Homo sapiens: one gene and its partners. The protein of the gene in region 1 purifies or fractionates together with the protein of each later gene. This does not show direct contact. Each region holds a gene or a part of one and is shown in the gene's direction. Other genes may lie near its edges.

What was found.
Region 2: the proteins of RSAD2 (region 1) and VPS13C purify together in Homo sapiens (affinity purification with mass spectrometry; one large-scale study listed by BioGRID and IntAct). This does not show direct contact.
Region 3: the proteins of RSAD2 (region 1) and UBE3C purify together in Homo sapiens (affinity purification with mass spectrometry, with the first as the bait; one large-scale study listed by BioGRID). This does not show direct contact.

What each region holds. Positions count from the first base shown.
Region 1 is NC_000002.12:6,876,476-6,880,646, forward strand, and holds the start of RSAD2 (S-adenosylmethionine-dependent nucleotide dehydratase RSAD2), read left to right. Parts: upstream 1-1,301; 5' UTR 1,302-1,325; coding exon 1,326-1,671; intron 1,672-4,171.
Region 2 is NC_000015.10:61,959,318-61,962,970, reverse strand, and holds part of VPS13C (intermembrane lipid transfer protein VPS13C), read left to right. Parts: intron 1-118; coding exon 119-222; intron 223-432; coding exon 433-600; intron 601-1,077; coding exon 1,078-1,382; intron 1,383-3,375; coding exon 3,376-3,523; intron 3,524-3,653. UniProt on the Homo sapiens protein: Mediates the transfer of lipids between membranes at organelle contact sites. Necessary for proper mitochondrial function and maintenance of mitochondrial transmembrane potential.
Region 3 is NC_000007.14:157,180,280-157,183,932, forward strand, and holds part of UBE3C (ubiquitin-protein ligase E3C), read left to right. Parts: intron 1-1,238; coding exon 1,239-1,392; intron 1,393-1,828; coding exon 1,829-2,049; intron 2,050-3,598; coding exon 3,599-3,653. UniProt on the Homo sapiens protein: E3 ubiquitin-protein ligase that specifically catalyzes 'Lys-29'- and 'Lys-48'-linked polyubiquitin chains.

The sequences.
Region 1 (4,171 bases):
TATGCCTCTCATGATCACATGTTTATGAAGAAGTGAGATCTATCCAAAAGTGGTTTTCAATTGTGCAAGACCATGGCATGAGAGTTTAAGAAACTTTGGGCTGAGATTTCAAGGACCTGAGACATATCTACTGTTGAATATTTGGTAATCATTAAGCATACAATTTTGCAGATGTTAAATGTTAAGTTAAACATGTTTAATTTTTTTTAAGTAAAATAAATCATTTCTGTTTCTATTCAGAATATGACAGTATCAGAATAACAGGAGCTAACCCTAACTGAACACTTAAAGTTTGCCAGGCACTATTCTGAATTCTTCACAAAAATTAGCAGTTTTACTCTGCACAAAAATCGCCTGAGATACGTTGCTTTGCTGATGAAGAAATGGAAATCCAGAGAAATAAAGTCGCTTACTCAGTCACCCAGCTACATGATTTGTGGCTCTGGAAGTTCAGCTACTAGGACTCTTCCAACTTCCTACAGGTGTCACGAAAGCACAAGACCACACACTTACACACAGTTCTGATGAAAGAGGGCTAAAAGGAAGATTTCAGTAAAAAGGTCAACAAGGCTTTCTAAAAAAACTGTAAAGGTAAATAAATGATGTGTCGCAGTAATTCTCACCAATTAGGAAGCATCTTAGAAAAGCATTGGATTTCCTCTAGTTAAAAACATCTATAAAAAGTGATATCAAAATATAGGAAGATGTAAATATCTAAATTTTAACACTGTCACCTTGCATAAATTAGGCTGAATAGCTGATGGAATAAGACCTAAATTCAATTTTGTTCCATGCCTTTTTACTGTGATCTGAAAGGGGTCTTGAGGTGAATGATCCTGTACTCATCCTCCACCAGCCAATCAGTCTGTTTATTATTTGGCTTTAAAAAGAAACCCCTTCACCATGATGGAGCAAAAACTGTTACTTGGCTATGTCAAGAGAAAGCAATGCAACAAGTACAAAGCGTGCTGATTAATGCACCTTGTCTATCTCTATCAGACAGAGAGCTAGATATTGATAGAGACTGCTATCCTCATGTGTAACTACATCAAGCTAGAGAGACTGTTATAATACAAGTGGACTGAGGCAGCCGTGAGCAGAGAAACCAGGAATGCTCGCCCCGATCTCTAGTCTTCAGTCTTGGCCCTGTTTCAACTTTCAGTTTCACATGTGGAAAAATCGAAACTCTAACTCAGCTGAGTGTTAGTCAAAGAAGGTGTGTCCTGCTCCCCAATGACAGGTTGCTCAGAGACTGCTGATTTCCATCCCTATATAAAGAGAGTCCCTGGCATACAGAGACTGCTCTGCTCCAGGCATCTGCCACAATGTGGGTGCTTACACCTGCTGCTTTTGCTGGGAAGCTCTTGAGTGTGTTCAGGCAACCTCTGAGCTCTCTGTGGAGGAGCCTGGTCCCGCTGTTCTGCTGGCTGAGGGCAACCTTCTGGCTGCTAGCTACCAAGAGGAGAAAGCAGCAGCTGGTCCTGAGAGGGCCAGATGAGACCAAAGAGGAGGAAGAGGACCCTCCTCTGCCCACCACCCCAACCAGCGTCAACTATCACTTCACTCGCCAGTGCAACTACAAATGCGGCTTCTGTTTCCACACAGCCAAAACATCCTTTGTGCTGCCCCTTGAGGAAGCAAAGAGAGGATTGCTTTTGCTTAAGGAAGCTGGTGAGTACATGGTCCTAGACAGAAATCAGGATTCTCAACCACTGGGCAGTGGGGTAAGGCGAGAAGGGGCTGGGGGTATGCACAAGCTGGAGAGCTTCTCCAAAGCTTGAGGTCACCATTTACCCTTGCATGGTGAGCATGTTGTCCTATGAGAAAATAATTCAGTGAATTTTGGAGTGGGCACCTAGTCCTTCCTAAATCACAGAATTGGGCTGGAACAGGGGATTTGTGGAGCAAACCTGTCCCTCCTGCCATTTGGAAGCAAGAAGGGGTCTATGCAAAGGGCAGGTCCCTATTACACTTGGTGTTTGGAAAGAGGCGGTTTGGGAAGTTTGTACTACTTTCTGAGTTTGCCCACAACACTAACGAATTTGGGTTTTCCAGAAACAGTTATTAATAATTAGAAAAGTTGGAAACAAAAACAAAAACTTTGACATAAAAATAGCAGTAGTTGAATCTTATATTTGAGTTTGTGTATATTCTTTTAATAGGAAACCTTAAAATTTTTTTAACAAATATGTCAAGGACTTAGCCTTCAAGAATGCTTACTGAGCATCACCACATTAGTAACTGGCAGCGTCTTGGAGAGAACTCAGCACGTGACCTTCGAATGCAATATCTTCCACTCCAGATCTGTTCTGCCTTCCGTCCTTGTCTTCCTGTCTTTCCTAGAGTACCTTCTCAACTAGTAACTTCAGCAACATCTCTAGCTTCTTTCCCTCCTTGTTTAACTTTTTAACAAAAGCATAGCATACATGCACCAGATTACACATATTCTGGATGTGCACCCTGATGAATTTCACAAAGCAATCACAGCCAGGTAAATAGCCTGCAGATTCAGAGAGAAAGCATCACCAGCGCCAGAAGTGCATGCTGCACTCCAGCCACTACCCTGGTAAGCACTTGCTGGACTTCTAACACACAGATTCATTTTGCCTGATCCTGTACTTTATATAAATGAAATCATACAGTGGGTCCTATATTGGATCTGACTTCTTTGCTCCACGTTACATTGGCTTAGTTACCCAAAGCTGATTGCTCAAATGAGAACCTGACTTCCCATTCCCAGTGTGGCTTAACTCAAATTCCTATCATTTCTCACCAGGATTACTGTAATTCAACTCACTGTCTCTGCTTGCCCCATTGAAAACTCCTGATCTTTTTTTAAAATGTACTTTTGGTGATTTAACTCCTAACTCTCCTTCTTATGAGCATCGTTGTCAAGGCCCCTGGCAAGCTCAATGTTGCTCTCAGCCTCTGCTACCCTGATGGCTTGGGTCCCCTCTGCTGTAGACACAGCCTGTCACACTCATTTTCTCCAAACATCAAAATTGTTAAAATGATGGTCATATTGTTGTCTCTTCCTAGAATGTCTGTCCTCAAATCTTGTTGGTGAACTTTCAAAGTTCCTTTGAATTCTCCTTGATCCTCTGCAGCCATAATTATGCCCTTTACTTTTCACTTATGAGCTTATAGCAGTTGGTACAAATATGTCTTGCAGCTTTTTAAAATGTACTATTTTGTTCAGTTTTTTTTTTTAATGTCTGGTTCCTCAAAGAAATTGCATTCCAAGGTTGAATTTTACCCTCCTGTGTGTCTTCATGCCTGACAGGATGTCTAGAAAGTAATAGAGGCTTAAGAAATGTTTTAGATAAATGAATGAATGCATGAGTGAGTGAATAAGGAGATATGTCGAGGGAAATTACGACTTTCATTCAGAAAGCCAGGGTTTGAGTTTCTGCTCTAACATTTACTAGATTTGTCAAGACATTTAGCTTTTCTGAGTATCAGTTCCATGATCTTTAAAATTATCTTTAGATAATAATGATAACTGATAAACCAATCTCAAAAGTTGGTACAAGGCACAAACAAGTGAATGTTCATGTATTTTTGTCATAAAAGATAAATTATTATTAATAGTTATAATTAATACTTTTATATAATAACCTCTCAGTTTAAGTAAGTAAAACAAAAGTTAATTGAAATGCTTACATGATAGTGTAGGTTGTATTTTCCTGTAAGAGAGATTTCTAGATAATGGAGGAAAACTATTTTTTTGGTTGTAAGAATTAAAGAAAGAGGAAAGAAACACAAAAGGTGGCTCCACAGTCAAGGACAGGTTTATTTTAGAGAAAAAAAACCTGAGAGGGGCTTCTGGCTGAGTTAAGTCAGAGCCCACTCTCTTACAGACTAAGAGTTTTAAGGATTTGGCGTGGGAGGGTTTATTAGAGACTTGGACTGCTTCTGTTTCTCTTTGTTGTGCTTATCTGGGAGGGAGAGTTGTGTGTCTGTTCCCGTACATCTTCCTGCAGCTGCAGGCATACCCACCCTGAATCTGCTTTTAGCTTCCCTATCTTAGAACACTAAAGAGAAACTAATGTGCTTATTTAGGCCCACTGTTTTACTGGGACCCATTGTATGACAGTGAAGTTTGGCAGTTACCTAAAAGACTTCCCCTCAACCTCCCTCTGTGCTCAAGCTGTCTTGTCTGTGTTTTACT
Region 2 (3,653 bases), on another chromosome or scaffold:
GGAGTTGAAACATTGCTAAATTTAAAAAAGTCACCCCAAAATAAAATAATGTAATGGAAAGAAAGATCTTATTTATGGTAGGTCTGTAGAAATTATAATAATACACTCTTTTTTTCAGGACTGGATTCCTCCCTTTCTCTCCAGTCAAGAAAGCAGTCACTTTTTGCCCGACTAGAAAATATTATTGTCACAGATGTTGATCCAAAGACAGTTCATAAGAAAGTAGGTGATTGTAAACAGATAGTTAATATTCTTTAATGACTGAATATGAGCTTCTATTGTAAAATGTATTTTATTTTAAAAACATTAATGAAATATATTTCAATAGAAAAATTTTTTTATAAAGATTATAAATGTAAAGCCTTTTGTAAATGAGATTTTATTTTGTCATTACCTTCCCGGATAGAGTACATTCAAGTCTCTGTTTTTCAGGCTGTGTCAATAATGGGAAATGAAGTTTTCCGTTTTAATTTGGATTTGTATCCAGATGCTACTGAGGGGGATTTGTATACTGACATGTCCAAAGTGGATGGTGTGCTGTCTCTGAATGTTGGCTGTATTCAGATTGTCTATCTTCATAAATTCCTTATGTCACTTCTGGTAAAATAATTATTTGTATATTGATTTTTCAACTTTGAAATATTTTAAAAGTGTGATAATTATGATGGCAAATGTTATAAACCTTGGATTTTAGAGTGGGCATTATTTTAATTATATTTATGCGTGAATGTAGAGATCAAAACCCCTATTTAACAGTTGAAAAGTGAATCATTTAATGATTTTTGTCTAGAACAAATTATTTTTGCTACAATATAATGAAGCCAGATTCTTTAGTATAAAAATTATTGGAAAAAAATTTTTCTCTGTTCCTTAACCATATAACATTAGCTCAGTTCAGGCAGCTCATAGTTATAGATGGATTATCCGTAATTTCTTAATACTGCTAGAAAAATAGGGCTCAATGGAAAGTTAAATATTGGAAAAAAAAAGTTACCACATGTATGAAAAGAAGATAGTGTTATTATTGATGTGCCTGTATTCTCTTTGAATTTCTCTTTTTATGCTTTGTGTCCACAGAACTTCCTGAATAATTTCCAGACAGCCAAAGAGTCTCTGAGTGCTGCCACTGCCCAGGCTGCAGAAAGGGCTGCCACAAGTGTGAAAGATCTTGCCCAGAGGAGTTTTCGTGTTTCCATCAATATTGATTTGAAAGCACCGGTTATAGTCATCCCACAGTCTTCTATTTCCACCAATGCAGTAGTGGTAGATCTTGGGTTAATCAGAGTTCATAATCAGTTCAGTCTGGTGTCTGATGAAGACTACTTAAATCCTCCAGTAATTGATAGAATGGATGTGCAGCTAACAAAGCTTACACTTTATAGGTATGCTCTTTCAATAATTATGGATTTAAATATTATATTCATGATTTCCATGAAATTTTATGACTTGAAATTCCTACCCAACACAGTTTATTCAAATAAACTGTTCCATTACACGGAACAGTTTTTTTTATTGTTGTCATTGTTTTGTGTGTGTGTGTGTGTGTGTGTGTGTGTGTGTGTGTGTGTGTGTGTGTTTTGAGTTGGAGTCTTGGTCTGTCACCCAGGATGGAGTGCAGTGGCGTGATCTCGGCTCACTGCAACCTCTGCCTCCTGGGTTCAAGCAATCCTCCTGCCTCAGCCTCCCGAGTAGCTGGGACTATAGACATGTGCTACCATGCCTGGCTAATTTTTTTTGTATTTTTAATAGAAATGGGGTTTCACCATGTTGGCCAGGCTGGTCTCAAACTCCTCACCTCAGGTGATCCACCTGCTTTGGACCCCCAAAGTGCTGGGATTACAGGTGTGAGCCACCGCGCCTGGCCCAGAAGAGTTTTTTATTTTGTGTTTTGAGATGAAGTCTTGCTCTGTCGCCCAGGCTGGAGTGCAATGGTGCAGTCTTGGCTCACTGCAACTTCTGCATCCTGGATTCAAGTGATTCTCCTGCCTCAGCCTCCTGAGTAACTGGGACTATAGGCACGTGCCATCATGCCTGGCTAATTTTTTTGTATTTTTCGTTATAGAGATGGGGTTTCACCATGTTGGCCAGGCTAGTCTCAAACTCCTGATATCAGGTGTTCTGCCCATCTTGGCCTCCCAAAGTGCTGAGATTACAGGCATGAGCCATCGCACCAGGCCACCAGAACAGTTTTTTAATCAACTTTTGTTTTAAAAAATTTCAGACCTACAGAAAAATGGAAAAAAATAGTACTGTGAATGCACCTACATATCCTTCATCTAGATTCACCAGTTGTTTATATTTGCTTTAACCTATCTATAAACATATACATATTATTTAAAACATTTTTTGCTAAATCATTTGAGAATAGACATCTTTAACTTTTTGTCCCTAAATACTTTATCATATGTCTCCTATAAACAAGGACATTCATTCTCTTATATTAACTATGATATAATTCTAGAAATTTAATATCGATGTAATACTATAATCTGAAATTCAGTCAATATTCAGATTTTACCAGTTGTCCCATTATAATAATTCGCATTATAGGAATGTCCATTATAAAAATTTCTCCCTGATTCAGGATCACCCATAGCGTATAATTGTATTCTGTACTATTGAGGAAGATTTCTGTACTGACAGAAATTTATTTTGGAGTAGTTCTTCAGCTTTTCTTTGTCTTTTTATGACTACATGACTACTACTGTAGTTTTGAAGACTACAGTCCGGTTCCACTCACCTCTCAATTTGGTTGTGTCTGAGTGATTCCTCATGGTTTGATTGAACTTACACATTTTTGGCAGGCATGTTGTGTAAATTATTTTGTATCTTCAGTGCTCATACCAGGTGGCACATGAAATCTGTACATAATTCATTTTAAAATTATTTTCTACCCCATCCATGAAGATTTAATTATGTAGAATAAAAAATTAATGACTACAAGGCAAGTCTAGAAAATAATCCTAGAGAAAACCTTTATGAAATGCCTTGGAAAATGCTAACTCCTCTTGTTCACTTTGCCATCATTTTCTTCAGTCTCTGCACCAACATACCTATTAATCCTTGAACAACTGTATATGATGATTTTCTGTATTTCTTCAATGGTGTGGATTGCTTTTAAAAACTTATTCAATTTTTCACCTATCTACTGTTTAAAGAAAAAAGTTTTCTTAATGGTTCATTGTATATCACCTTTTAATTTGTCCCTTCTAGTGGATTATAGATTAATTATAGGTTCAGTTTTGAAAATACTCAAGCCACACTGTTTCAGATCAGTATTTAGAGCAGCAAATAACTGCTTGACTTTGCTTTTTTTTAATATGTTGCATTTCTACCCTATATCTATGCATTATGTAACATTTCTGTTTTTCGTAGGACAGTGATCCAGCCAGGCATCTACCATCCTGATATTCAGCTGTTGCACCCAATTAACTTGGAATTTCTTGTAAATCGGAATCTAGCTGCATCTTGGTACCACAAGGTGCCTGTTGTGGAAATTAAAGGACATCTTGATTCAATGAATGTAAGTATATGAGTGAAGAAAAAACTTCATTGTTGAAATTTTAAACTCCAAAGACTTTTAGCAGAAATCCAAATGAAATGTAGACTCTTTTGCTGAATAGTATAAGAGAAATTTCAGTGAGACTTTGTCC
Region 3 (3,653 bases), on another chromosome or scaffold:
TCTATTCAGTAAGTACATTGTTAGTTATGTTAGTCACTTTTTTAAAAAAGTCTCTGTGTATTTTTTAAAATTCTTGATGTATTTTTATCTTTTTAGTTTCATAGCAAAAGAGCTTTCAAGCTTTCATATGAGTTTCACTAGTTATCAGTATACACTAGGTTAGACTTGGGGTAGTTACAAAGTAGGTCTAATGATAAAGTACTGAGTATGCATTGTTTGGTGATCTTCACTCAAATACGAAGCTGTGTAGGACTGTTTCAAAAACTAGCCCATGCAGATGGATTGTTTTTAATGTGCTACCAAATACGCTTGTATATGATGAGATACTCAAAAATTGCACCTGAACCTTCTTATTCTATAAAAATGGAGTAAATGATTCTGAAAGAATATATGATTTGGATCATTCTTGATACCCAGAGTTATGTTCACTGCCTCCCACCCAGAGTTCCTATCAGAAGCGTAGGCTGGATATTTTAAGAGGTTCTGAAAGTTGTTTCAGTTTACGTATAAGCTGCCTTTAAACAGTTAACTTCTTCAGTTCCCAGATTGTGGTCTCCAAATACATCATCTCCTCTAAAAGGAGCTTAAGAGTTTCTGGAGAAAAGGCTGATTGTAGGGCGGGATGCAGGACTGCCAGTGACCCTGGGGCTCAGGAGCCTCCTAAAGCCCACCCCGGGGCCCCAGGTGGAGCAGCATGAGGTCAGGACTACAGTGGAATGAAACCTACCAATATGTTCAACTCTATGAATTCAACACGGTGTTTAAAAAATGCACAAATCAGAGACAAATTATAAGATCACAATATGTGGTCCTTATTGAGCTCCTTCCTGATGCAAGCAAACTAGTTAAATAGAATTTCTAACATGAGACAGTTGGAGACTTGAATACTGACTAGATATTTGTGATGTTAAGGAACTACTCTTCATTTATTTTAGCTGTGATAATGTTTTTAAAAATAGTCTCTTAATGATACACTAAAATAATTATATCTTAGACTTCCTTCCAAATGAGTGGTATACAGGTGAAATGAGATTGGCTGTAGTTGACAGTTGTTGGTACATGAGGTTTGTATACCGTTCGGCTGCCTATATATTTGTTTAGTTTTCCTTGCTAGCATGTTAAAGAACTAACTTAAGTTTGGACCTGTAGAGATGGTTAAAAGCATTTAAAAATTGGCAAGTTTTTTCCCTTATTACAGGAAAAGGCACTAAATTTTAAATATGTGTTTTTCCTTTTAGGGTATTATAGGTCTCTATATTTGTTGATTAACAGCAAGCTTCCATCAAGTATTGAATATTCTGATTTATCTCGAGTTCCTATAGCAAAAATTTTGCTAGAGAATGTTCTAAAACCATTGCACTTTACTTACAACTCCTGTCCGGAAGGTGCGAGGTGAGACTGGAATGGATTTATTGATTTTGTCCTTTCACAAGATCTATATCTGATGGTAACTTTTACATAGGATGTGATTTTAAATATAGACTTGAAATTCAGGTTTTTACTTTATTAGTGTTGATTTAGTTTATAGGAAAGTGTACTTTTTCTTTCTGGCCTGTAGCCTAATACAAATTTGTGATTCTGATAACATGGTTATTTTCCTGCTTTTCTAAGTAACTGTCAAAAATTAACGAAAACATGGTAGTTATCTTAATAGAGAAGACATTAAGTTTACTTTAGGTTGATCTAGTTGATATTAAAATGGTTAACTTGGCTAATTTAGAAGAGTAGATTATCCTTTTAGAAGGATATTTTGAAAGGTGATTTTAATCAGTGATTGGATGGACAGTATAATTTGATTTTATAAAAAGCTTCTGTTTTTCTTTTTCAGGCAACAAGTTTTTACAGCCTTCACAGAGGAGTTTCTGGCAGCACCTTTTACAGATCAGATTTTTCATTTCATCATTCCGGCGCTTGCAGATGCGCAGACCGTTTTCCCTTACGAGCCCTTTCTGAATGCACTGTTGTTAATAGAGAGTAGATGTTCAAGAAAGAGTGGTGGAGCACCCTGGCTTTTCTATTTCGTTTTAACTGTTGGCGAAAATTATTTGGGTATGAAATACAAGATCTTTTTTACCTGAACACACATATGGGTAGCATTGGCAGATGAGTCAAGAGAAGGCCATGCAGTGGCAGGTGTTATGGAAAGGTGGGCCTCTCCTGGAGGAGTGTATTTGCTGGAGGGATGTGGTCTGGGCAGTGTGTTCCTGGGGACAGTTTCCAGATACAGTGGAAAAGACTGACATATATATGTGTCTTATGAGGCCACACAGATTATTTTAATAGAGTTAACAGAGTTAAATGGGAAAGCTCTTCTGTGAGTCAGGCCTGTTTCCCTCCCTCTGCTAAATTTCCAGTGTGCCTCTTCTAGAATAACATCTTCCTGTAGTATGTTTGAAAACATACATACATACATACATGCATGAATTATTCATGAAAGAAATATAGGAAAATGTGAAAACCAAACTTTTGGGGGTTGGGTGCGGGGGGGTATATAGAGTCTCGCTCTGTCACTAGGCTGGAGTGCAGTGGCTCCATCTCAGCTCACTGCAACCTCCGCCTCCCGGGTTCAAGTGATTCTCCTGCCTCAGCCTCCTGAGTAGCTGGGACTACAGGTGCACGCCACCACACCCAGCTAATTTTTGTATTTTTAGTAGAGACGGGGTTTCACTATGTTGGCCAGGATGGTCTCAATCTCTTGACCTCGTGATCCACCCGCCTCGGCTTCCCACAGTGCTGGGATTACAGGCTTGAGCCCCTGTGCCCAGCCCAAACTGTTTTTCTTACTCTCTCACTCAACACTGAAAAATTCTGTGAGCAGAAATGTGGGGTTTTTTTTCCCACACACCAAGCAATTCTTCAGTGGACACCAACTAGGTATTCTACAATTCAGTTCAATTCTGATGCCGTCCACCCGGAGATAATGTCAGATCCCATCATCTGAGGGCTTAGTCCTGCAAGACTACACCCACTTCAGAGGCCGATTACAAGTAGTAGGTTGTCACCTATACTTCTGACCAACCTGCAAAAATGGGGGTTCCTCAGCCCCTCCTTGGGATTGGTAATTGACTAAGACAGTTCACAGAACTCGGGAAGTCGAGGTGTGCGGGAATGGGGAGCTTCCATGCCTTCTCCAGGCACTCCACACTCTCGGCACCTCCCTGTGTTGAGCTCATTGTGTCTTCCTGTTGAGTTTTATGGTGCTTCTTCTCCAGTGTCCCTCCCACAGACAGCCCCTTGGAAGTTGGTGCGTGGGGCTGAAAGTTCCAACCCTCTGATCACTTGGTTTTTCTGGTGAAAAGCCCCATTCTGAGTCCCCTAGATGGCCTCACCATAAGTCACCTCAAGTATGATCACAAAGGGCTGGCTATGAATAACAAGAGACTCTTTATCTTTCAAGAAATTACAAGAGTTGTAGGTGCTTTCTGACATGAACGGGGACAAAATCTAAATATGTTTCCTATTATAACACAGTTAGAATTTTAAAAATAAGATCTGGTCAGAAATGCCTCTCTGCGTGTGAGGAAAAATGGCGTCTTCGTTTTCCATTTTAAAAAATAATGTTTAACTAAAATACGTTTTAACTGATTGTTTTGCAAAGGGGCCCTCTCTGAGGAAGGGCTGCTGGTGTATTTGCGGGTGCTGCAGACCTTCCT